Linked DNA regions of Homo sapiens: all the other regions are reported to be linked to region 3. The links are microRNA targets in miRTarBase. Many come from high-throughput screens and were not tested one by one. Region 3 holds a microRNA gene; each other region holds the end of a gene's coding sequence.
The links. The annotated mature microRNA hsa-miR-1470 reads GCCCUCCGCCCGUGCACCCCG and lies in region 3 at 2,511-2,531, opposite strand. An mRNA with a match to its seed (bases 2 to 7 or 8) in the 3' UTR can be bound and repressed. Matches are read on the target gene's strand: a 7mer-m8 pairs with bases 2 to 8, a 7mer-A1 pairs with bases 2 to 7 and ends in A, and an 8mer does both.

Region 1 (4,088 bases), not on the chromosome of region 3:
GTGGCAGTAGTATTCATCTCTACAATACCCGGCGGGGCGAGAAGGAGGAGTGCTTTGAGCGGGTCCATGGCGAGTGTATCGCCAACTTGTCCTTTGACATCACTGGCCGCTTTCTGGCCTCCTGTGGGGACCGGGCGGTGCGGCTGTTTCACAACACTCCTGGCCACCGAGCCATGGTGGAGGAGATGCAGGGCCACCTGAAGCGGGCCTCCAACGAGAGCACCCGCCAGAGGCTGCAGCAGCAGCTGACCCAGGCCCAAGAGACCCTGAAGAGCCTGGGTGCCCTGAAGAAGTGACTCTGGGAGGGCCCGGCGCAGAGGATTGAGGAGGAGGGATCTGGCCTCCTCATGGCACTGCTGCCATCTTTCCTCCCAGGTGGAAGCCTTTCAGAAGGAGTCTCCTGGTTTTCTTACTGGTGGCCCTGCTTCTTCCCATTGAAACTACTCTTGTCTACTTAGGTCTCTCTCTTCTTGCTGGCTGTGACTCCTCCCTGACTAGTGGCCAAGGTGCTTTTCTTCCTCCCAGGCCCAGTGGGTGGAATCTGTCCCCACCTGGCACTGAGGAGAATGGTAGAGAGGAGAGGAGAGAGAGAGAGAATGTGATTTTTGGCCTTGTGGCAGCACATCCTCACACCCAAAGAAGTTTGTAAATGTTCCAGAACAACCTAGAGAACACCTGAGTACTAAGCAGCAGTTTTGCAAGGATGGGAGACTGGGATAGCTTCCCATCACAGAACTGTGTTCCATCAAAAAGACACTAAGGGATTTCCTTCTGGGCCTCAGTTCTATTTGTAAGATGGAGAATAATCCTCTCTGTGAACTCCTTGCAAAGATGATATGAGGCTAAGAGAATATCAAGTCCCCAGGTCTGGAAGAAAAGTAGAAAAGAGTAGTACTATTGTCCAATGTCATGAAAGTGGTAAAAGTGGGAACCAGTGTGCTTTGAAACCAAATTAGAAACACATTCCTTGGGAAGGCAAAGTTTTCTGGGACTTGATCATACATTTTATATGGTTGGGACTTCTCTCTTCGGGAGATGATATCTTGTTTAAGGAGACCTCTTTTCAGTTCATCAAGTTCATCAGATATTTGAGTGCCCACTCTGTGCCCAAATAAATATGAGCTGGGGATTAAATACGAATAAGACATGGTTTCTGCCATCAAAGATGGCTGGTGGGAGAGAGAGATACACCCTTATTAAGTGCTTTGTGTTAGTTTATTCATAGCTATTGTTATATATGTCAAGGCAAGAGAGGACCAGAGCAGGACAGAGGCAATGGGTATTGAAGTTGAAGGGGTACATTTGATAAGAGAGTCGGTATTGAGAAGTTTAAATTTGTGAATTTGAAGGCTGCGTGGGTGTGGCAGGTAAGGGAAATGAGGTATCTGGGAAGGCTTGAGTGTAGGCAAATTTATTCATCCCAAGTCAAACTCTTGATCTCTCTCACGAAAACTATGACCCCCCCTGGTTGCCCCTGACCTCTCAATGTTGGAACAAGCCACAACCGTGGAGTTATCCTTGATGACTCCCCATTCATTATCCCTTCTGTCCCACCACCACAGCTGTCATCTGTTCACCAGAACGTTCTTTTGGTTACACTCCATGTGACATCCTGAGGCTGTTGCTTCTCTCCAGCTTTTCTGTTACCATCCTGGTCCTGGCTACTGTCACCTAGTGGGCCACTATAATATGGCTTCCTAATGGATCTTCCTGCTTCCTCTGTTGCCTCATTACTTTTCTATATAGCAGAATGATCTTTTGAAAATGTGAACCAGATCACATTATTCCCTAGTTAAAACCCCCCAAGGCTTCCCATCACACTTGGAATAAAATCCAAAAGAATTTTTCTAAACCAAAAATAGTAAAAACAATTTTTTTTTTCTGACAATCTCTTGTCACCCAGGCTGGAGTACAATGGCGCAATCTCGGCTCACTGCAACCGCCGCCTCCTAGGTTCAAGCGATTCTCCTGCCTCAGCCTCCAGAGTAGCTGGGATTACAGGCATGTGCCACCACGCCTGGCTAATTTTTGTATTTTTAGTAGAGACAGGGTTTCACGATGTTGGCCAGGCTGCTCTCGAACTCCTGACCTCAAATGATCCACCACCCCCCTTGGCCTCCCCAAGTGCTGGGATTACAGGTGTGAGCCATCGTGCCTAGCTAAAAACACTTAATCCAAAATTCTTACCATGGCCTGCAAGGTCCTGTGTAACCTGGCTTCGTCCCCCCTCTAAATGCTATGAATGTCAGATGGGCACCGTAAATGTGTGAAGGGTCAGTTACCTGGGTGTAAGGCAGTAGAAGGTGGGGACAGAAGTGAGCTGGAGGGCGGGCTTGTGTCCTGCCTGCAGGATGGGGGGTGGCTGCTACTTATTCAGGAATCCAGCAGAAATTGCTTCACAGAAGCTAGAAGTGAGCAACTTAAATAACTAAACACTATCTGGACCAAACAAAACACTAAGGTCGGCCCGATGCAGTCCACTACTCTCTTATTGGCAGCTTCTGGCTCACTGTTGAACCCACTGGAATGAGAGCACCACCGGGCAGACTCCTGGACCATCCCACTGTCAGCTCTGTGGTCCAGGCACAGTACCTGGGACAGTGTAAGCACTCAATGTGAAACTCAAGCCAGGGGCAAGCCACAGACCTCCCAGTATCTTCTCCGCGCATCTTCCCACTCCCAGTCTCCATTGTGGTTTTGTATGTTCCTAACCACAGACTTTTGGCAATGCTGTGCACACAAGGCCTGAGGAGTATTTCCTTGGCAATTGTCAGAAGAATGAGACTAAAACACTTCCTTTGCGCACCTGTTCTTAGAAGCAGCTCTGGCATTACTCCCGTTGTGTATCCAGGACAGGAAGTGGCAGTAGAATGTTGAGTTACTGAAGTCAGATGTCTTCAGTTCCAGTTCCAGCTGGAGAGCAGATAGTAGGTCCGTTGACCTCTCTGAGCTTGTTTCCTCAGCTGCAAAATAAGAATGAATCCTGTGCTACCCACCTTGCCATGTTGTGTTTCAGTGAGACGAGAAAACACTACCAAAAAGTCATTCCACAGACTTCTGAGGACAGAAAGTGCCCTCACTCAAGCTTCTCTTGTAACCACAGAGAAGGTGTCTGGATATTAACATAGAGCAGAGGCCACCAAGGTTTTTCTTTTTTTTAATCAAAAATCCTGCATGTGAAGGCAGTAATTGTATCTTAATATTATAATTTCAACATCTGTGGGTGTGAAATTTTTCAAAAAAAAAATTTGGGGAAATATTTTAAATGGCGGTGTATAGCCTATTTTGGTGTTTTGTTTGTTTTAGAGTTGGGGTCTCACTCCTTCATCCAGACTGGAGTGTGGTGGTGCCATCATGGCTCACTGCAGCCTCGACTTCCTGGGCTCAAGTGATCTTCTCACCCCAGCCTCCCAAGTAGCTAGGATCACAGGCGCATGCCATCACACCTGTCTGTTTTGTGTAGAGATGGGGGTCTTACTGTGTTGCCCAGGCTGGGGCTTGCAGTCGTTTAAACCATGCAATACACAGATTAAGATGGTGGTGCCATCTCAACAGTGGCCTGCCACTTCCCAGGGAGTCTTCCTTCCTCAGTGCAGTCCACCCTCCTCCTGGCTACTTTCCTGGGGTTTGGTTGCAAGTGGGTCTTCCACCACCTGCATCCAACACTCGGGCGCATGAGGAAAACCAACTCTTTAATTTGCTTATCTGTGATAACTTGAAGCCCTGGATAGTGTCTTGCATATGGACATGTTTTCACAATTATAGCTACTCCAGTAAAGTCACATTTCAGAGACTGACAGCTTGGGAAAGGCACAAAAAGTTTTGTTACTGTGTTATCTACAATGAATGTGCAATTCTTATGTAATGTTCATTGCAGCAGTATTCAGAATAGCAAAGACATGGAATCAACCCAAATGCCCATCAATGATAGACTGGATAAAGAAAATGTGGTACATATACACCATGGAATACTATGCAGTCACAAAAAGAACAAGACCATGTCCTTTGCAGGGACATGAATGGAGCTGGAGGTCATTATCCTTAGCAAACTAACCCAAGAACAGAAAACCAAACACTGCATGTTCTCA
Region 2 (4,084 bases), not on the chromosome of region 3:
TTTATTTCTCTGTTCCACTCACATGCAGCACCATCAAATGCCTTCATGTAACCAATGTCACATCTAATACTTACTAGAATAAGATTCCATGTAATTTGATTTAAATATTTAACTTTGAGTTCTTTTGGTGTTCAATCTCCTTGCTATAGCTATTAGCTTGATGATATTATTTTCAGCTGCACTGCTTAAGCTCAAAATTTGAAATCTGCAAATGTGCTATCTTTCTAAGTTCAATTTTACCATTGTAGATCATGATGTCATAGCAATTTCCTGAGTACCCATTTTCAGATTCATCATCACATTGGTGACATTGTGGAAAAACAGCCTAGGATCTCTCGAGAACAACTAACTGATCCCTCTCCTTCCCTACCCTCGTCCCAGGCCCCTACCATTGATATCCGCCCAAGATCAGCAACCATTCAAATGAATAATGCTACACACCTTCAAGAGAGAGATGAAGAGTACGGCTATGAGTGTCTGGACGGCAAGGACTGTGCCAGTTTTTTCTGCTGTTTTGAAGATTGTCGAACAGGAGCTTGGAGACATGGGAGGATACATATCCGCATTGCCAAAATGGACTCCTATGCTCGGATCTTCTTCCCCACTGCCTTCTGCCTGTTTAATCTGGTCTATTGGGTCTCCTACCTCTACCTGTGAGGAGGTATGGGTTTTACTGATATGGTTCTTATTCACTGAGTCTCATGGAGAGATGTCTGTTCTAAGTCCACTTAAATAATCCTCTATGTGGTTGATAATGATCTGAATCTGTTTCTATGTCCAAACCTGGTAAATTTTATAATGTCATATTGTTTGTGCCCAGCCCTCCTTTGGTTAGTGTACTTTGAACTTCGATGTTTGCTGTGTTTCAAACCTGCAAGGCAAAGTAAAATTAGAGCAAGAACATTCAAACCAAATAAGATATTTTTCAGCTACAGCAAATAAAACAGTGAAAGCCCTGACTATTTACAGTAGTGGTATCCTTACTAGATTCATAATGCAATTAGATAGAAAAGGTCCAAAACTGTACCCTATGTTCACTCCGGGTCAAGTTGTGATAAATTTGATCCCAATAGAATACCTCCCTCATTTAAGAAAAATCATAACTCACTTTAAATATGAAAGCCTAGTCCAGAAATCTATTACACCTTTATCTCAAGATAGGAAGAAAATTTCCTCCACATTCATGTACAATGATGTAAATATTTCAATAACTTAGAATGCTTCAAGTTTAGTGCATGCATCTCTTTAGATCCAAAATAAATGGACTGAAGTTATCATCCTATTGTCTTTTATTTTGTGTCCTTGGGCTATAAAAGATTCCTGAATGTAATTATAAGGATTTGGGTTTGGAAATGGAGGGAGGAATTTTCATTGCCTTCTCCCTCATGCATGAAGATTCGAACAGCTTATTTTTTCCTTGTATGACATATTACAACACTTTAAGTAAAATATAGACTGGATAATCAACATTTGCCACCTCTAAATATGCCCAATTTCATAACTAGAGTATAAAGTAATTGTATGTGCTTGCCGCTATTTTTTTCTTCCTTTTAGGATGATAGATCATAACAGAACTTATTCTCCATCTCAAGATCTGCTTCTAGTGATTGTGAGTGCCTTGTGGGCAGAATCCTTGTCATTTCCTCTTTGGGTCTGTAGCACCTTGCATAGTGCCTGGCATATAGTTGGTGCTCAATAAATATGGTTTGAAGTGAATTGCCCTCACATGCTTCTGGCAAATCTCTGTGCTGGCCTGAAACCAGTGACTCATCTTCTCACATAGGTGTTGTCAAGTGATATTTGATTTTGTAAAAATAACCAGTAGGATCCAAAGAACTTTAGCTATTTATGTTCATCTTCAAAAAATTATTTTAGGCAAAGTCCATACTCCTTTTAAAACAATATTTATGTCCTATGTTTGTGTATAGACATGACTCTACTAGGGCATAATTAGAGTTTGTGTATTATTTTTCCAGGTTTGGGGATGAGTCAGTCCTTGCCCATCCACAATTTTGTTTGTGAACTTATAACAGGAATAAGCAAAATTCATACCTGACTAGTGTTCAGAATGTAGCATTCTGTGCGAAAAAGTATTGAAGATTAGCTTTTAAAAACTGAAAAAAAAAAATGAATGACTCACATAGAGGTTGAGCCAATGACTGTGGCCTCATTAGATTACATTGTAGTTAAACAAAGCAATTTCTCCAGACTTAAAACATGATGAGTTGAGCTCTATCTTCATGTACTCATCCTGAATCCTTATTTTTCTAAAATAGCACCCTTTGTTAATTATTTTTATGGAAATTATTACTCTGTCATAATTAAATCATAGCTAGTATAACTTTACAGATAACCTAAAAAGAATAGAAAAGAAGAGAGAGTGGCTTTGTCAGTATAAAACCATGTAAAGTCATCATCAAGTCATCTGGATGAATCTTGAAACACATTTAGCTGCCAGTTTTACAAACCTTTAATATATCAGTGCTCCAGTATATAACCTCAAACAAATGTAAATAGAACGAATTATTTTCTTGTTTTGAATTGTCAATATATTAAATGTTGACTCTTTGGGAGAGTTGTTGGCAAGTTTCAATGGTGAGAAACATTATTGTCAACTTGAAATGTGTTCTGTAATGGGGACACTACAAAAAGCTAGCTTTCCAATGTGTGCATAGTATTGGCAATATGAATATATATTATATATAATCTAATACTTATTATAAGCTGCTCCCTGTCTATGTATTTGGAAACCTTTTCACAAAGGGAATTGCCTAACATGTGGACTTTTACAATAAAAATGCTGCATTCTAATCCATGGTGGCATCTCAGTAGTCTGGTGGGACTGTTTGTCTTAGAGATTGTGACCTCTCTTTCCTGCCTCATTTCCCCAAATCCCCTCTCAGTGAGCTTTATCTGTGAGCTGTGTGACTGTGTTTTGCATGGCGGTACTCTTCACCTCAAAAAAATTAAGAGAGGCATGTGGGTTGTAGAGTGAAGAAGAAAGGCAGACATGTAATAAAGTAAGTAAAAATTCAAGTCTTCTCTACCTCAAGAATTTCGGTGTGGTTAACATTAATTCCAGTGCCAGACAAAGTTGGGATCCCAGCTTTACTATTTACCAGTTGTTAGACAATTGTCAATTCAGACTTTAGAATCCTCCATTAAAAATAATTTATGTATTTGTTTATTTGTTTAGAGATGGGGTGTCCCTCTGTCACTCAGTCTGAAGTATAGTGGCACAGTCATAGCTCACTGAAGCCTCAAACTTCTGAGCTAAAGCATTCCTCCTGCCTCAGCCTCCTGAATAGCTGGAACTACAGATGCATGCCACCATGCCCAGCTAGAAGTCTCCATTTTAGCAGCTATAAATTAGATATACCAATGCTAACCTATGTAGTGACACTCAACAAATGGTCAAAAGCTCTCTCCCTCACTTCCGATGCCTTCCATGCACTGCTGTCATGCTCCCTTCATCCTATCAAACTAGCTTCCCTAATAGAATCCAGCATTAGGCATATAAGCCTTTAAGTGACTCTACATCACTCTATTTTTATTTTTAGGAAATATTTGCATTGCAAGTCTTTTAAACTATATGTGGGAAATTTCTGTCTCATTGGAAAAAAACTTACACATTACATTAGTTATTTTTAAGGCCAAAGAACTGTTATTTGTACCCTCAAAATTTACAAACATACAAAGTTGATTAGCCCTACTCCAGAGACAATGTCATGTTTTCTTGAACTCTTTTGAAATTCTCCCAGGAATATAATATTATCTTCACAACACAGCTGCCCTAACCATCCTTGGCCCCATTCTCTTGGCCCCTCATATCTTCCTGCATCTAATTTAATCATCTATTTCTCACCTTCCAAACCTATAAAAATATAGTTTTCACTTAGATGTTGTCTGCTGTCTAACTCAATGCCCTGAACTTTAGCTGAATTCATATCTTTATATGGCCTTCATTCCTTGCATTAAGTCTCAATATTATTCTGACTAGTAGCAAAAATTTTTGTCTGCAATGAAGGTCAAATTAAGTTAACAAAATGATGTGGTCTTCAGGGATTATGTCAAAAATTGCTAT
Region 3 (4,078 bases):
AACAAGCAATGAAGGGCACAGTCTGAAAAACCTGGTGAGATTGCCATCTGAGCCCTGGGGCAGGTCTGGGCGGTGGAGGAGCAAGGGTTGCGGTGCAGCCCTCTCCTGGTTTCTGAACCCCATCACCACTGCCTCCCCAGGAGCACCGCCTAAATGAGATGGAGAGAACTCAGGCTCAGCTGAGGGATGCTGTCCAGAGCCTGCAGCTTTCTCCAAGGACGCGGGGGTCTTGGAGTCAACCCCAGCCCCTCAAAGCACCCTGCCTCAATGGAGACACCACCTGAGCTGCCCATCCTGCCTCATCACACGTGGTCTGGGAGCAGAGAGATAGCCATCTTAGGGGGGGTGTCTGACTTTGCCTTAGCCCTACTTGGCCTACAGTGGGGAGTGGAGCTGCTGGTCCCAACCACTCTGGCAGTATGAAGTTGCCCAGTAAAATCTTGATTTCAGTGAAATTGGTGGTTTCTTTGCCCACTAAGAATTGCCAATTCTTAGGCATTTGCCCCGCAAGCCCTATTCATCTCTCCCAAATTCTCCCCTAATTAGAAGTCTCATGGAGAGGGCCATGTACACAAGTTCTCACCAGCTGTGTGACCTTAGACCTTCATTCTCTTAAGAGCCCGTTTTCTTATCTGTGAAATGGACGTAAAGTTCCCTACACAGTGAGAGGACCCATAGTTAAAGGCATTCGATAAAAGGTATTCACCATTGTTATAGGCAGCACCTGCTTCTCAATGAAGCATGGATTCCACCCCTGGCAACCTCCCAATCCCACAGTGAGAGCATCTTCCTAGGCCCTCCTCATGTCACGGAGGCCATGGGTCTGGGAGGCGGATAAAGGAAGGGGGTCAGGTGTGGAGATGGTTGGATACTGTGTATGAATGATTGGGTAAATGAGTCATTCAAATCATGGGTGAGTGGATGGGTGAGGGGTAGAGTGGGTGGAGCAAACGGCAGACGGATAGGTTAGCATTTGCTGGATGTTTGACCTGGTAGGTGAGTAGCTGGGTAGTTGGTTAACCAGGTTGGGTATGTCTGCCTAGAAAAGGCCTGGTTCATAGTAAGAAAAAATTTTTTTCAATGTTGTGATTATATATATCATATGTACATATGTTGAGGTCTCCTGAGACGCCTGAGAACTGGGCAGTGGAGAAACAATAATGAACTAGACAGGACTCCTGGCCTCATGGAACTTACATGTTAGTGGAGGGACCAAATCAACAGACAAACTGGTGGATGGATGTTTGGGGGGCTGGGCGGAAAGATGTGTGTGGGGATGGTTGGGTACTTGCTTGGTTGTATGGATAAATGAGTATTTACTTGGGTGCTGGATGAATGGGTGGGTAGATGGGAAGTGAATGGGTGGGTTGAGTGGGTGTTTGGGTGAATTAATAGGTGGTTGGAGGGGTGGGTGGATAGGTGATTAGTTCATTGGATAGGTAGATGAGTGATTGATAGATTGAGGAAGTGGATGAGATAGCTAGGTGGTTAGATATCTGGATACATGGTGGATAAGACAAGACAACAGGCCATGATGTGTGTCTGATGGGGTAGTCCTGGAAGCTGTGATCCTGGGAACTGGGTGGAGAAGGTGACTTAGGACTGAAGACCTAGGGCAACTCTAGGGACATGGAGGTGCTGAAGTCCAGTGTGGATGATTGGGAAGGAGGGAGTGAGCTTGTGGTTGGAAGGTAGCTGATGGGGGGCAGGGGACAAAAGGCTAAAAATTGGCTGGGTGGAGTCTTCAATGACCTATCAATGACCCATCAATGACCCATGGGGGAACTTCTCTGCACCCTCCCCACTCTTTTAGTGCTTTTAGCGAGCCTACCATTGGAAGTACCAGTGGGACGATAAGGAGCCATTGGGGTGTGGGACGACAAGGGTGTTGTCATGGTAACGGGGCCTCTCCCTGGACTCAGGCCGTGCGGGCCCTTTAAGGGTGACCCGCTTGGCCACTCCCAACATGGCGGCGCGCCCGCTGGCCGCCCCCCCCGGGGCGGCGAGGGGGGGGGGGGTGGGGTGGGGGGGGCGCCCCGGACCTCCCCATCATGGCGGCGCGGCGGGGCTGTCGCGCTGAGGTCACGGCGGCGCGCCGGGGGGGCGGGGCGGCGGGGGGAGCGATTTAAAGGGACAATGTCCCCCGAGCGGTGGAGGCGGCGGCGGCTGCGGAGGCCGCGGCACCGGCACCGGGAGCGGCAGCGGCGGTAGCGGCAGCGACGGCCGCACCAAGGAGGGGAGCTCCGAGCCCCGGCACCTGGCCGGCGGCGCCGCCTCCCCGGTGAGGCCCGGCCCGGCCTGGGGAGCCCGCGGGTGGGGCGGAGCCGTAGCGGGGCGGGGGAGGCCCCGGGCCGGGCCGGGCCAGGCGGGACCCCCCGGGGCGGGGGCGGGGGCGGGGCCTTCAGGGGCGGGGCCTGGCCGGGGGCGGGGCCGTGCAGGTGGGGGGAGGGGCGGGGGTCTTGGGGCAGGTGTCCCCCCTACCTCGGCGCGTCCCGCGGGGTCTCCTGCCCCGGGGTGCACGGGCGGAGGGCTCATCCCCCGGACCCTGGACCCCCGAGGAGTGGGCCCGCGCGGCGCAGCCCCCACCTCTGCGACCCCTGGGGGGCGTCCGGGTAGGAGCCCCCTCCCCACGCTGCCAAAGTGCTCCGAAGTTGCGGTCCCGCCCGTTCCCCGCGGGCAGTGCCCACCCAGTGGACAACCGCAGGTGCTTCCTCCGGGCCTGGGTAGGGACCCCCACCAAGACTGCCAGCCCACGGAGGAGCCCCCTGGGAATCCCCAGGCCCCCGAGGGCAGCGCCTGCAACCAGGCCTGGCGCCCCGGCCCCGCCCCGGTTGCCTGGGCCCGGCCTCCCCACCATCTCCCTGGGGAGGGCGCCTCATTCCTGCCCTTCACTTTCCGCCGTTACCTTGAAGGTATTTATAGGTAGAGAGGACAACCCCCGCTCCCCAGGGTCCTCATTTCTGGACCAGGAGCCCTATCGTTTTCTTTCGCCCGAGGACTAGAGCAATCTTGGTTGGGGGGTGGGGGGAATGGAGGAGCCCAAGCTGGGTATGCATGAGGGATAATGTTGGGGAGAAGCGAAAGGGTTAATGCTGGGGTCACTTGAGGCTGTGTGTGTGGAGGGGGGTGAAGGGGTTAATGCTGGAGAACCCTAAGGTCCTGTGTGGGGGAAGGGTTGGAGTGTGGGAAAAGTGCAGGGATCATTGGTATGGGACAACCCAATGGAGAAAAGTAAAGGGGTAATGATGGGAGACTCCTGACGGTGTATAGGATCAGAGTGTACAAGTGGCTGGGATTCTTGCCGAGGAAACGAAGGCATGGCAGTAGGATGTGCGTGTGCATGGATGTGAGGGCAGGACTGGGGAAAGTGCAGCTGTGTGTGAATGAAGGGAGGCGTCTGGAGAAATGGTAAGATTGATGGAAGAAGACCAGGTGGCTGAGTGTGCATGTGTCAATATGGGTAAACTGAGGCAGTGCAGGATCTGTATAAAGGGGAGGAGTTATTGATGGGGAGACGGAGGCATGCTGAGGGTAGGGGCCATTGGGATAGAAGGTGTGTGGAAAAGGTCTGAACACCATTAGCTCCCCTGGGCTGGGAGGTAAACTGAGGCAGTGAGCTGCAAAGTTGAGGACTGAGGTTTTGAGGGATGGGAAACTGAGGCAGATTCCCTTTCCTCCATCCCCTAAGCACTTCCTTCTCTCTATCCCCAGGCCCACAATGCCCCGCTGAGCCGGTGCAGCAGCTGAGTGGATCCAAGCAGAGAAAATCCGATGGAGGGGTCTCTGGCAGGCAGCCTGGCTGCACCAGATCGTCCCCAAGGCCCAGAGAGACTGCCTGGCCCGGCGCCAAGGGAGAACATCGAGGGTGGGGCCGAAGCTGCTGAGGGGGAAGGTGGCATCTTCCGGTCCACCCGTTACCTGCCTGTCACCAAGGAGGGCCCCCGAGACATTCTGGATGGCAGAGGTGGCATCTCTGGTAAGAGAATGGGCCGTGTGGCCCCCAGGGAGCATCCAGCCCATTCCCCAAGGCTCAGAGAGAGTCAAGTCACCCAGCGCAGCAGCGGCTGAGCTGGGATGC
Region 4 (4,088 bases), not on the chromosome of region 3:
AATGATTATCTTTCCACCAGGAGGAACAATGTGGAAAGTCCACTTTGTGACGCCTGTGTTCCAGCCAGAGGGAGCCGGTGCCTGCTATGGAAGAAAGGTCTGCCCGTGCTTTGGGGAAAAAGTAGTCCACCACGATCCACCTTTGCTCTTTGACCTCTCAAGAGACCCTTCTGAGACCCACATCCTCACACCAGCCTCAGAGCCCGTGTTCTATCAGGTGATGGAACGAGTCCAGCAGGCGGTGTGGGAACACCAGCGGACACTCAGCCCAGTTCCTCTGCAGCTGGACAGGCTGGGCAACATCTGGAGACCGTGGCTGCAGCCCTGCTGTGGCCCGTTCCCCCTCTGCTGGTGCCTTAGGGAAGATGACCCACAATAAATGTCTGCAGTGAAAAGCTGGAGCCCCGATTCCTAAATTTTGTCACTCAAATTGAAACAAACCAGCTGGCCATGGTGGTTGTCATCCCAGCACTTTAGGAGGCCACCACAGGAGGATCACTCCCGTGATCAAAACCAACCTGGGCAACATGATGAAACTCTAGCTCTACAAAACAAAAATAAAAAAAAAATTAGCCTGCATGGTGGCACACGCCTGTAGTTCTAGCTTCTCAGGAGGCTAAGGCAGGAGGATCATTTGAGCACCGGAGTTGGAGGCTGTACTGAGCTATGATTGTACCACTGCACCCCAGCCTGGGCAACAGAGCAAGACCCTGTCTCAAAAAAGAAAGAAAACAAAAAAATGAAACAAACTTCAGTGTCATGTTAAGATATCTATTTGCATAAGGATGAATAGTTTCCCCCTGTGAAAAACAAAGGAAAAGGCAAGAGAAAGTAGAAATGAACAATAAACACTGGCCAGGCGCAGTGGCTCACGCCTGTAATCCCGGCACTTTGGGAGACAGAGGCAGGCAGATCACTTGAGGTCAGGAGTTCGAGACCAGCCCGACCAACATGGTGAAACCCTGTCTCTATCAAAAAAAAAAAAAAAAAAAAAAGCAGCAGCAGCAGCCAGGTGTGGTGGCACACGCCTATAATGCCAGCTACTCAGGAGGCTGAGGCAGAAGAATTGCTTGAAGCCGGGAGGCAGAGGTTGCAGTGAGCTGAGGTCGTACCACTGCACCCCAGCCTGGGTGACAGAGCAAGACTGTCTCATCAAAAATAAATAAATAAACAAACAAACATTAATAATGCACCGTTGAATGATCACTCAGACACCAAACTGGAGAGGCAAAGTATCTCCTGCAGTCGGGGAGGAGTCTGTCAATGGACCCCAGCTCAGTCTGGAAGAGGCTGCCCTGTAGCCCAAAACAGCACAAGTCCCAGCAAAGGTGTCTCTGTGACCTACAGGTTTGCACATGAACAGGAGATAGGCCCCAAAGATAAAAACTGGCACTGATGTGGCTTTGTCTGTGGTGCCCATTTATAGTGTTTGTTTATCGTTTACGGCCACAAGGATGAGCCGTGCTTCCCGTTGGAACTGTTTTCAAGTGGTTTTCCTTTGTCTCCAATGCCCCAGGTGATTTGGGCAAACTCTGGCTGTGGAAGCCGCGCTGTGCAGGAAGTGTTCGCCCCAGCTCTGAGCTGCAAGGTCATTGCATAATCAGGCTGCGCCTTAATTGTCTGGGCTGCTAGAATGAAAATACCATAAACTGGGTATCATCAAGAATATTTCTTTCTTGCAGTTCTAGAGGCTGGATGTCCAAGACCACGGCGTGACGGAAGCTGTGTCTGGGGAGAACCTGTTTCTCGGTTCACAGCTGCTGCCTTCTTCCCATGTCTTCACACGGTCATCCCTCTGTGCCTGTCTGTGTCCTATCTCTGATTCTTGTTTTTTGTTTTTTGTTTTTTTTTGAGATGGGGTCTTGCTCTGTTGCCCAGGCTGGAGTGCAATGGCGTGATCTCAGCTCACTGCAACCTCTGCCACAGGTTCAAGTGATTCCCCTGTCTCAGCCTCCCGAGTAGGTGGGACTACAGGCGTGCACCACCATGCCCGGCTAATTTTTGTATTATTTAGTAGAGGTGGGTTTTCACCATGTTGCCCAGGCTGGTCTAGAACTCCCGACCTCAAGTGATCCGCCCACCTTGGCCTCCCAAAGTGCTGAGATTACAGGCGTGAGTCACTGCACCCGGCCCTAATCTCCTCTTCTTATAAGGACCCCACTCCTATTGGAATAGGGCCCACTCTTGTGACCTCATTTTAAAGGATGAATAAAAACCTTATTCCTGTGAGTTTGAAGGCAACACAATTCAGTCCCCAGCACATTCTCCCCTGGGAGTAAGGAGGTCTTTCCAATAGCTCTTTCTGTCTCCAGATTCAAGCAACAGGTCCCTCCTCCCACTCTTCCAAGCCTAGGTATGTGACGAGCAATGCCCCACCTTGTCACCGCCTCAAGAACATGTCCTCAAATTATCCAATCCACATCAGCCTCCAAGAATTCAGGCTGTGCATACAGACCAAAAAGTCAAATCCATCTCCAGCCAATTCTCTTGGGTCAAGAAAGAAATAGTAGGCCAGGTGCGGTGACTCACATCTGTAGTCCCAGCACTTTAGGGCACTAAGATGGCTTGAGGCCAGGAGTTTCAGACCAGCTGGGGTGACATAGCGAGACCCTGCCTCCGCATAACATTTAAATAATTAGGTGTGGTGACACGTGCCTATAGTCCCACCTACTTGGGAGGCTGAGGCGGGAGGATCACTTGAGCCTTTGGCCTCCCAAAGTGTCCAAGGCTACACTGAGCTGTGATCGTGCCACTGGGCGACAGGGCGAGACCTCATCTCTAAAAAGAAAGGAAGGAAAAAATGGCAGGAAGGAAGGAAAGCAAAGAAGCAAAAAGAAAAAGGAAGAAAGGGAGGGAGGGATGGCAGGAAGAACCAGTTAACCCCTATGGCTTTCCCCATAGCCATGGCTTATGGAACAAGACCAGCACTTTGGGTCAGCTGTGCCCGATGTTCCCGGCCCACAGAGTCACCTTTAAGTTCTTCAGCATCCACTGGGGAGAGTCACCTCTGTCTCCACACTTGCCCACACTCTTGAGCTTGATGGCTTTGAAGCCAAAGTCCCCATGGAGGCTCCATGTGCTGAAAGTCATGTGAGACCCTCAGGGTCAGGGCTTACCCACCCTTTCCATCCCCACAACCTCCCGCAAATATGACTTCTGGAGCACCAGCTCCTACTGCCCCCAGGCCCCATTTCCAAATCCTGGGCACCCAAGACAGCTCAGTGTGTTTACATAATTTACCTAAGGGCACCCAAAGTTCTTTTCTCTCTAGTTCTCAGGAATCTCAACTCCCAGCAGCATAGGATTTCTTCCAAGGATCAAATCTCCGCGCCACCCCTGCTAAACCTCCTTGCAGAACTGCTTCTGGGCTGTCTCCTGCCCCCCTCCTTCCAGGCCTCGGCCTGGCCTTCTCCATCTGCATGACAGAGGCTCAGCAAGGAATCCCAGTTGGGAAGCCCTCAAAGATAAAAAAGTTCTTTTTTAAATTTTTTTAGAGACAGGGTCTTGCTCTGTCACCCAGTCTGGAGTGCAACGGTGCAATCAGCTCACTGCAACCTCAAATTCCTGCACTCAGATGACTCTCCCACCTCAGCCTCCCAAATAGCTGGGACTACAGGCACACCACCATGCCCGGCTAACTTAAAAAAATTTTTTTGTAGAGACAGGGTCTCTCTGTGTTTCGCAGGCTGTTCTCAAACTCCTGGTTTCAAGCAATCCTTCCCCCTCAGTCTCCCAAAGTGCTGGGATTACAGGTGTGAGCCACCAAGCCTGTCTGATAAAAGCTATTTCAGAGTAACAGGGCAAAGAGAGAAGCAATAAACAGTGCTCAAGAGCTAGCTCCAGACAGATGGCCAGCGTAATAAATGTAAATGAACTAAATTTGCCAATTAAAAGTGAATGGTCTTTTTTCTAAATAGAATTCCCAGCACCATTTTGGGAGATTCCAATTGAATAAATTTAGGGAGTAGGGCTCCTGACTGTATTGTCTTGAACAAGCACCCCCATCATCTCATCCCAGGGGAGTGTGGGGCAGCTCCCTCATTTATGAAAATCCTAACTCAGTGAATTTAAGGAGGGGCTTCTGAATC
Region 5 (4,088 bases), not on the chromosome of region 3:
CACCCCCACCTGAAACAATAGCCCTAAAGTATGTCAATGATTGTTATTTGGGTTTTCAGCTCAGGTTACAGAAATATGTACAAGATCGCATCTTTTTAAGTTTTGCAAAATAGCCCTAGCATCAAGTTTAAATGGATGAGAATGCTTGGTGCTAACTTCTTGAGACATATTTGGACTAATCACTACACAGCTGGCAAAATGTTATGGTTCACCAACAGTTATTTCACTTTAAGGCAGTCTAAATAGAGGATTTCATGGAGTTAAATCAGACCGTTTGTGGGAAAATTGTTTCTTAAAAAAAAAAAAACATTTTAAAGGAAAGGATGATGATTTGTTGTTTTTGTTTTTTTTCCAAAAAAACCCAACAGGCTGGGCGCAGTGGCTCATGCCTGTAATGCCAGCACTTTGGGAGGCTGAGGAGGGCTGATCACTTGAGGCCAGGAGTTCGAGACCAGGCTGGACAACGTGGCAAAATCCCATCTCTACTAAAAATTAAAAAATTAGCTGGGTGTGGTGGCATGCACCTGCAGTCCCAGCTACTCAGGAGGCTGAGGCAGAAGAATCGCTTGAAGCTGGGAGGCGGAGGTTGCAGTGAGCTGAGATCGTGCCACTGCACTCCTCCAGCCTGGAGGACAGAGCGAGACTCCGTCTTAAGAAGAAAAAGAGAAAGAGAGAAAAAAAGGCCAGCAAAATAAACAGCTAGCCCCTAAAGAAATAATTCTTCTGCCTACAGTAGATAGACTAAAAAAAAAAAAAGGCATTCCAAATAATAGCCAAGGCAAATGGATTTAAATGGATTGCCACTCATCTACCTGCTCTAACACCAGCGAGTGAGTTCTTAACACTATTTTTTTCATTTTGATAGCTCCAGTATCCAGTCACAGAGCCTGGCACATAGAAACTCAGTAAATATGTGATGAATGACAACCTCTCAAAAATTATGTAAGGTGCTGAATTACATTTGAAATAAGAATTGTGACTACAGAACACTCTAGTATATGGTTTGGATTGGCTGAAGCAAACTGAACAAAACTTGTGGTCAAAAATAACATGCCTAGAGAGCCTCATTATATCTCTCCCTCCCTGTTTCCACATCAGTTGTTTGACATCCACGCCCCCTGCTTCCACCAGAGCCTGAGCTTCCCCATACACAGTGGGACAGTACAGCTGGACAGGCCTGTCCTTTTCCAGCCCTCAGTGAAAGCTGGGAGAAGCAGAGCAGAAGGTATTGTTCTACACAGAGAACTTCACTCAATGTGCTCCCTAACTTAAAAAAAAAATTATGAAAAATGTTTAAAAAATTCAAAAAGGACATGAACATCTAACTCTGAGATTGAGATATTAACACCTCAGGGCCTCAATCAAATATTATAATGCTAAAATACACAACTGCTACACTTTGAATTGTGGTAAGTCTCCTCATGAACAGCTGTATTTTAATAGGTACTTTACCAATTAGAGAAAAATATCACATAATTTAACTGTTTCAATTTCACTTCCTATACACTGTATGATCTATAGGCTCATCAATTGTTGACAAAATGTCAGTTTCTTTATAGGAAGAAAATTGAAACTTTGCTCAAGTTTCCATTAGATTAAATGCAAACTAGGATAGTTTGTTATTCTCATTCCAGAGGAAAAACGAAGGGATGTGGAGTTTAGCGACTTGCTGGAGAGAGAAGAACTATCAACTGAAGGCTCAGTTCTTTCACTACTGCCATATGGAAAGAGGTTACCTAAAGCACTCACTAGAGGAAATTTTATTTTACTTAGTTGGGAAGTACATACACATCACACAAAGAGAAAAGGAAAACAAACTGGTGGAATTTTCTGGTGATGGTAGTTTTTTTTTTTTTTTTTTTTTTAAGCACTGTGGTGTTACTAGGTTATCATCCTCTCCAGAATCTTAAAACCAGAGAAGCCAGCTGTGTGAATGAACTTATAAAGCCTCTTTAAGGCAAAGTAGCCACTAGAAAAAAAAAAACAACTTTTCTTGAAATCTTTCAAGAAAACTAGGAAATATGCATTCTACACATTGTTCTGTCTTGTCTGCTCAGTTTCCTTGCCTTCGTGCCACACCTGTTTTCTCTAATCCCTCCTTTCACTTGACACCAGCTGGCTTACCCCCTGCCACCACACTTAGGTAATCAGTAGCTGCCTCAAGACACTGGTGCTTCACAGCAGAACCTGATTTGAAAATTAAACCCACCCTCCTACTTGTACAATGAAGTAAATGAAAAAAATCCTCAGTGACACTGCCTCCTGCCTGCCAAGAAAGGCTCTCACTAAACTGGTGATTGAGGTTATAGAGAAAGAAACTGCTTTCACCCTTTTATAGGAAATATTACATCTTAAATTTAGAACCAAAAAAACCATTCATGGTTTTGCTAATTTTCACATTTTATTTCCAACTATTGCAGTAACAAGATGCCGGTAGTATTCTGCACTGAAAGTGGCAACCTTTTAAAGTAAACAAGGTTGCAAATTTTAGTATTCCAACAATATTTTGACCTATGGAGATTTTGATAGGAAAGAATTATTACAATCAGTTTTATAATACTACAGACTTATGTTTCCTCCATATCTAGGAATAAAAATATCCACCCTCCCTCAATGATTCATCATGTACACATCTCTACTCTTTACAAGCACTATCCTTCCAGTTGTACTATGAGGGGAAATCCCTCTCACTCCTGGGTTTTTCTACAGTATACAGAAATAGCAGTCACTTTAGCAGTAATGTACAATACTATTCAATCTTTAGTTGAAAAATAAAGAAGTGGATTGCCCTATTTATGTCCTGATAGTAAAAAGACACACACCATTGAAACATAAAACGAGTCAACAAACTTCTATTTTTATTGACAGGAGTCCAAAATGAATACAAAAAAAGCTTCCTTTGCATGTTATACTTACTTTCCTTAAAAAGCTCCTGATAGAGTCAAGTAGACTGAAAACTAAGGATGTAGTTCAGCTTTTAGAGTGAACCTTTTTTAAAAAAGGTTTAATAACATAAGCCACCAGTATCAGAAAACATACAGTCCCACTATCACTTTTAGAGCTAGAACTTATCAAAAGAATTAGATCCTGCATTGATCTGCTAAGATAGAGGTTTAGAAATGGTTTAAGCCATTAAAAGCCATTTTTATAATCTGTCTGATAACTCTGGGCAATTAAGAAAAGGAAAATTCCAAAACGTAGCCCTCTATATCATGTGGAATGTGAGAGAATGCCAACTTATGACCAAGATAAGTAAAAATAAAAGTTTAAATCTATGAGTGGAGCTGTTGTATCACTGCAAAATGTCAACAACAGAGCTTATCAAGAGATTATCAACTTGAGCGATGTTACTTAAACTTGAGCGATGTTACTTAAAACATATTTGTGGTGTTTGCTAAAACTAAAGCTGAACAAAGAAAAGTCGCTCATTTACAGACTGTGTTTCCTGCATCTTTACTTTTACTGGGACCATAGACTGATCAGATAATACATAGCCCACACTTCTGGACAGTTATAATAACAAAGGATTTATTATCATTTGCAGATGAAATAAATGTACCATCCCCTACTTGAAAGGTTTCAATAAGCCTTAACATTTTTCAGGTTGTACCAAGGCACCGCCACTGCCTAGTTATATTATGCACCCATTTCAAGAGTAAAAAAACTACACCTCCCTCAACATCAGTTCTGTACTGTTTCTGGTTTATGATACACTTCCAAAACAGCAAAAAATTGCAAATATGTGCAAACACTGTGGTCCATTCAGAGTACTGCTTAGTCATCATCTTCTTCTTCCTCCTCTTCTTCCTCAAAGCTATCTTCAAAGCCCTCACTGTCCTCCTGGTCTTCATCCCCCTCTATTGCTGTATCCCACTGTGGGTGATTTTCTGGCACAGGCTTAGCCTCATGAACTTCCAACTAGAAAGAAGAATTAAATGTAGACATCAGAAATTTGGGGAGAAATAATGGAAGAAATCTTGGTAAACAAAAGGTTTTCTTTGACCACAGCAATTACAAAGAAATAGTTTTTTATGGACACAATTCTAAATTCAACTCATTCATTTAGAACAGACACTTCATCCCAGAAA
Region 6 (4,082 bases), not on the chromosome of region 3:
ACCTTCTCCCCAACAGAAATGCCTGGAGTTGAAGACAAGCCTGCTGGCCCGCCAGAGGGGCACCCAGTCATCCCTGGACCGCCTGCGGGCCCTCCTGAGACTGATACAGGGCGAGCAGCTGCTCCAGGTCACCATGACGACCACTAGCCCTGCCCCACTGCTGGCCGGGCCCTGGACCAAGCCCTCAGTGGCAGCCACACACCCCACCGTCCAGCACCCCCAGGGCCACAACTGACCCCGAGGGACCAGTCTTCATACCCACGGAAAGTTATTGGGACCCTGCTTACACAGCCTGGGGGTTCTGTCGGCCTTAATTCATAAACACTATGAATTTCAGACAAAAATTAACCAGACAGAGGAGAGGAGGGAGGAAGAGCTGGGCGAGAGGCCTAGAGCCAGGACCAGGTGGGGGTGCGGCCCTGTGCCCTCCAAATTCACAGGGGGTACCTAGGAGCCAGGTGGGGTACGACAGGCTGGGGCACACAGTCTCCCCCCGGCCACCTCGGGGCTGCCTGGGCCTCTGGCTTCCAGGCCCTGCTCTCCACGGCCTCCCTCTGGCCCGTTGGAGGGGCAGGCTGAGGCTGTGGAGGGGACAAGCACGCCCCCCAGAACGCAGTCTCCACTGAGGGCACCGCCTATTGGTGTCCTGTGGGAGGGCGAGCTGAGAACACATGGACTAGCTGAGTGGTAGCGGTAGTTGGGACGAGAAGCGGGGTAGTGGATCTAGGTAGTTCCTCAATGCCCCACGCTCCTAGGAGGTCCCCCTGGGGTGGGCGGGCGGGCCTGGGGCACTCCGTCGCCTTTGCAGAACCACCTGGGCCCCTTTCTGTCAGTATTATTAGGGTTACGAATTGCAGCTGTTTAACTTGAAAGACACTGTCGGAGGTGAGCATCTGGGCGCCGGGACGCTGCAGTGATCCCCGCCAGAGCCTGTGCCCTTCCTGCTCCGTCTTTGGGGTCCTCAAGGCTGCCTCCTTCCTTTTGCCAATCTCTTGGACTCAGTTTGCCGTTGATGCGTTTTTCTCATGGAGTTTCTGGGCAGAGTGGAGCTGCAACCCTGTTGTGGGGGGCAGCATTTGGCAGGTTTTCTCCTTGGGGTTGAATCATTCAACTTAACGACTGAAGCCCTTTCTTGTCTCCTTTGGAAGAGCCGATAAGTATTCCACTCCTCCCTTCTTGCCAGTGCAGACACTATGCCAAAAAATAACTTCACACTTTTGTATGGCGTTTTTATTGTGAGATATTTAATGTGAATGGTTGGGGGGACTCTGGCTGACTTCCTTTCTGCTTCTAGTAGTCTCTGCTTCAAGGTACAAATGGGAACACCTCCCCTCGGGAAGCCTGGCCAAGCTGGAAGATCCGGCAGGTTTTTTACGAGCCGGGTGGAGGGTTGGGGAGGAAAGAAAGGGCGGTGGCTCGGGAGGTTCCGGCCTTCGGGGACCAGACTTGCTGCCAAGGGCTTCTGCATCCAGGGTGGGCAGTGGCAGCTTGTCACCCTTGCCCGATTCCCACATCCCAGTCCTGAGGGACTCAGCACAACAGGATAAGCGTCCAGGAGCCACGGGCTCCCACCCCGAGCATATCACATGGTGCCGAATTGCACTGAACACGCGTGTGTGCATCGCACGCGGCCACGACCACAGACACGCATGCACACACGCAGAGGTGCAGAGCGAGGAGGCCGGCAAATCCCGCAGCTGCCACGGTCCCTCCTGTCATTCTCACGACTCCGGGAGAAACTGTGCTGTATGATACAGATCTATTTTAATACACTTACCACTGGGTGAACAAGATTTTTATATTCTTTTATTGATGAACAAAGTGAACCGTGTGAGGCACACGTCTTCTATATTGGCTACTCTGTGCCAAGTATGCATTACCGCGTGGCTTGCGATGTCCATGTCTTCAGCTTCCTTTTCTGTTGGTTTGGTTTTCTTCGCGGATGGATTGAGTTACATGTTTTAACAGTGTAATGGGAGGATCTGAAAGGTTGGACCCGGGAGGGGTAGCTGCCGATGTGTCTTGAGATTGTTAGGTTTTTTTTGGACCAAGGAGGACCGTCCAGTGGGTAGTGAGGATAGAGAAAAAGTGTTTGTCTTAAATACGCCAATGTAGTTTTCCTTCTTTACAATGTATTAAACTCGATCGATGATTTCAAAGCCCTGTGGTTTTGGTGTCCTTGCGTTGCGGAGAGGCCCCCGGGAGTGCCCAGGGCAGCCAGGTGGGCGTTGGAGGGGCTGGAAATCAGGGTCTTCTCCCATCCTGAGGAGGGAGGGATGGAGGGAGGGAAACAGGGAGAGAGCTCAGTGCCCTCCACTCACTCACCCCCGATTCCCAGTCCTCAGAGGCGGCGGGTGACCCTTTAGGGCTAGGATTGAGGGTGGAAAGTCTTGGAAACCCAGCAGGTCTGTCACTGTGCAGAGCCCAAGGTGGTGCCCTCTGCTCCCTCATGGGTTCCTGCCTCTCAGCCTGGCAACATCACCGCTGTCTCTCTCCCCCAGCAGCGGGTACAGGCGCTCCTGCAGCCACGCTGAGCTTACACCTTGCCCTACAAGAGGTGGGGAATCAGCCCCCCTGAGTCCTAGCTCCTGGCATTGCACGGGGGACTCTGATTGGCCAAGTGGGTCGGGGCCGACCCCTGGGCAGTTAGCTGTGGCCAGAGGCTGGGGTCTAATGCCAAAGTGGGGTCCGGTGCCCCAGGGGACAGAGAGGTGGAGGGCATGCAGGGCTGCCACACAGTCCCGCTTCATGGCTTGCCCTGGGGAGAATAGTTTGGGAGGAGGGGAGCAGGTTTCAAGTCAGCTCTGCCTGAGCCCTCCTGGGGGCCACTCAAAAGACCACACTCGGCATCCGTGGCTCACTCCTGTCCTCTTTGGATTCTCTTCAGTCCGACTCCCCACCCCTTTGCACCTCTGGAACACCAGGTCAGTAGTGACCTCCCATGGCCAGATCCCCGGGGTGCTCCCGGTCATCACCTGGACCTCTCAGAACCAGAGGACACATTGGCCACACCCCCTGCCAAAGGAGGCTCCTGGGACCTCACTCCTGCCAATGTGGCTGCTCCCTGGTCTCTGCTCCAGACTTGCTTCTCTTCTACCTAATCACTGAAGGCCCAGGTCTGTGTTCAGATCTCCCGCAGCCGGCCTTCACCTGCCCCTGGCTTCTGTCTGTACCCCCAGGCCCACTGTACGGCTGCGGGTGTCTCACGCTCTGCACAGTCTCTACCAGGCCAGTCCCTCCCACCTCCCCATCTCAGAGGAGCTTCAGGCTGCTGGGGCTGGCACCCTGGGAGTCACTCTTGGCTCTTTTCTCCCACCTTGCATACCTGGTCCTTGGCAAATCCATCAGCTCCGCCCTCAGGACATAAGCAGGATGGGACAAGCCTCACCGCCCACCCCAAAATCACCTTGGTCCCAGCCCCATGATCTCCCCTGGATTCCGGCAGCTGCCACCCACCTGCTCTTTCCAAACCCTGCCCCGCTGCAGTCTCTTCTCAACCCAGCAACTAGTGTGATGGCGACGCTGTCAAAACCCTGCCATCCGGGCGCCTGTAATCCCAGCTACTTGGGAGGCTGAGGCAGGAGAATCGCTTGAAACCGGAAGGTGGAGGTTGCAGTGAGCTGAAATCACACCGCTGCACTCCAGCCTGGGCGAAAGAGCGAAACTCCGTCTCAAAAAACAAACAAAACCCTGCTGCCCTGTGTCTCGTTCAGCAAAAGCTAAAGGCCTCACCCTACTCACCTTACTTGTGCCTCCAGGGCCACAGGCCCCGCTTGCTCTGGCCTCTGGTTTATGCCCTGCTCCTCTCCTCCTTGCCTGCCTCCTCGCTTGCTCCCACCGCAGGGCCTTTGCATGTGCTGTGCCCTCGGCCCCCAGCCATCTCCCTGAAGACCTGACCCTGAGCACCGCCTCCTCGCAGTGCCGCCTTCCAGCCCCCTCGCCAGGACCCTGGCATTGCCTGTCCTTCTGCCTGCTCTTTGGTTCCTTGAGCTTCCACAGCCTGCTGTGTGCACCCCTGTGGGTTTTTATCTGTCTACTCAGGAAGATAGGGAGTTTGGTTGGTTTTCTTTCCAAACCCCAGC

Region 1: the mRNA of TBL2 is a reported target of hsa-miR-1470. Seed matches in the 3' UTR shown: 7mer-A1 at 329-335.
Region 2: miRTarBase lists GABRG2 as a target of hsa-miR-1470. Seed matches in the 3' UTR shown: 7mer-A1 at 1,355-1,361.
Region 4: the mRNA of ARSL is a reported target of hsa-miR-1470. The part of its 3' UTR that is shown has no 7-base or 8-base seed match.
Region 5: miRTarBase lists SEC63 as a target of hsa-miR-1470. Seed matches in the 3' UTR shown: 7mer-A1 at 2,093-2,099 and 7mer-A1 at 1,077-1,083.
Region 6: the mRNA of PHF21B is a reported target of hsa-miR-1470. Seed matches in the 3' UTR shown: 7mer-A1 at 363-369.

Annotation. Positions count from the first base shown.
Region 1 is chr7:73,566,715-73,570,802 of GRCh38, reverse strand. It overlaps TBL2 (transducin beta like 2), which reads left to right. Exons shown (of 7, transcript NM_012453.4): 7 at 1-3,266. The coding sequence ends at 296. Among named protein-coding and RNA genes, the nearest start is that of TBL2, 9.8 kb to the left of the region's middle.
Region 2 is chr5:162,152,712-162,156,795 of GRCh38, forward strand. It overlaps GABRG2 (gamma-aminobutyric acid type A receptor subunit gamma2), which reads left to right. Exons shown (of 10, transcript NM_198904.4): 10 at 382-2,815. The coding sequence ends at 657. Among named protein-coding and RNA genes, the nearest start is that of GABRG2, 87 kb to the left of the region's middle.
Region 3 is chr19:15,448,001-15,452,078 of GRCh38, reverse strand. It overlaps MIR1470 (microRNA 1470), which reads right to left and starts at 2,531; the gene lies at 2,471-2,531. It overlaps WIZ (WIZ zinc finger), which reads left to right and starts at 2,123. Exons shown (of 13, transcript NM_001371589.1): 1 at 2,123-2,281; 2 at 3,712-3,976. The coding sequence starts at 3,772. RASAL3 (RAS protein activator like 3) reads left to right here. Exons shown (of 18, transcript NM_022904.3): 17 at 1-34; 18 at 141-455. The coding sequence ends at 284. RefSeq lists silencers at 2,099-2,228, 2,279-2,398, 2,749-2,858.
Region 4 is chrX:2,931,123-2,935,210 of GRCh38, reverse strand. It overlaps ARSL (arylsulfatase L), which reads left to right. Exons shown (of 11, transcript NM_000047.3): 11 at 21-690. The coding sequence ends at 379. Among named protein-coding and RNA genes, the nearest start is that of ARSD, 3.8 kb to the right of the region's middle.
Region 5 is chr6:107,867,930-107,872,017 of GRCh38, forward strand. It overlaps SEC63 (SEC63 protein translocation regulator), which reads right to left. Exons shown (of 21, transcript NM_007214.5): 21 at 1-3,918. The coding sequence ends at 3,775. Among named protein-coding and RNA genes, the nearest start is that of SCML4, 46 kb to the left of the region's middle.
Region 6 is chr22:44,879,239-44,883,320 of GRCh38, reverse strand. PHF21B (PHD finger protein 21B) reads left to right here. Exons shown (of 13, transcript NM_138415.5): 13 at 17-2,159. The coding sequence ends at 235. Among named protein-coding and RNA genes, the nearest start is that of ARHGAP8, 130 kb to the right of the region's middle.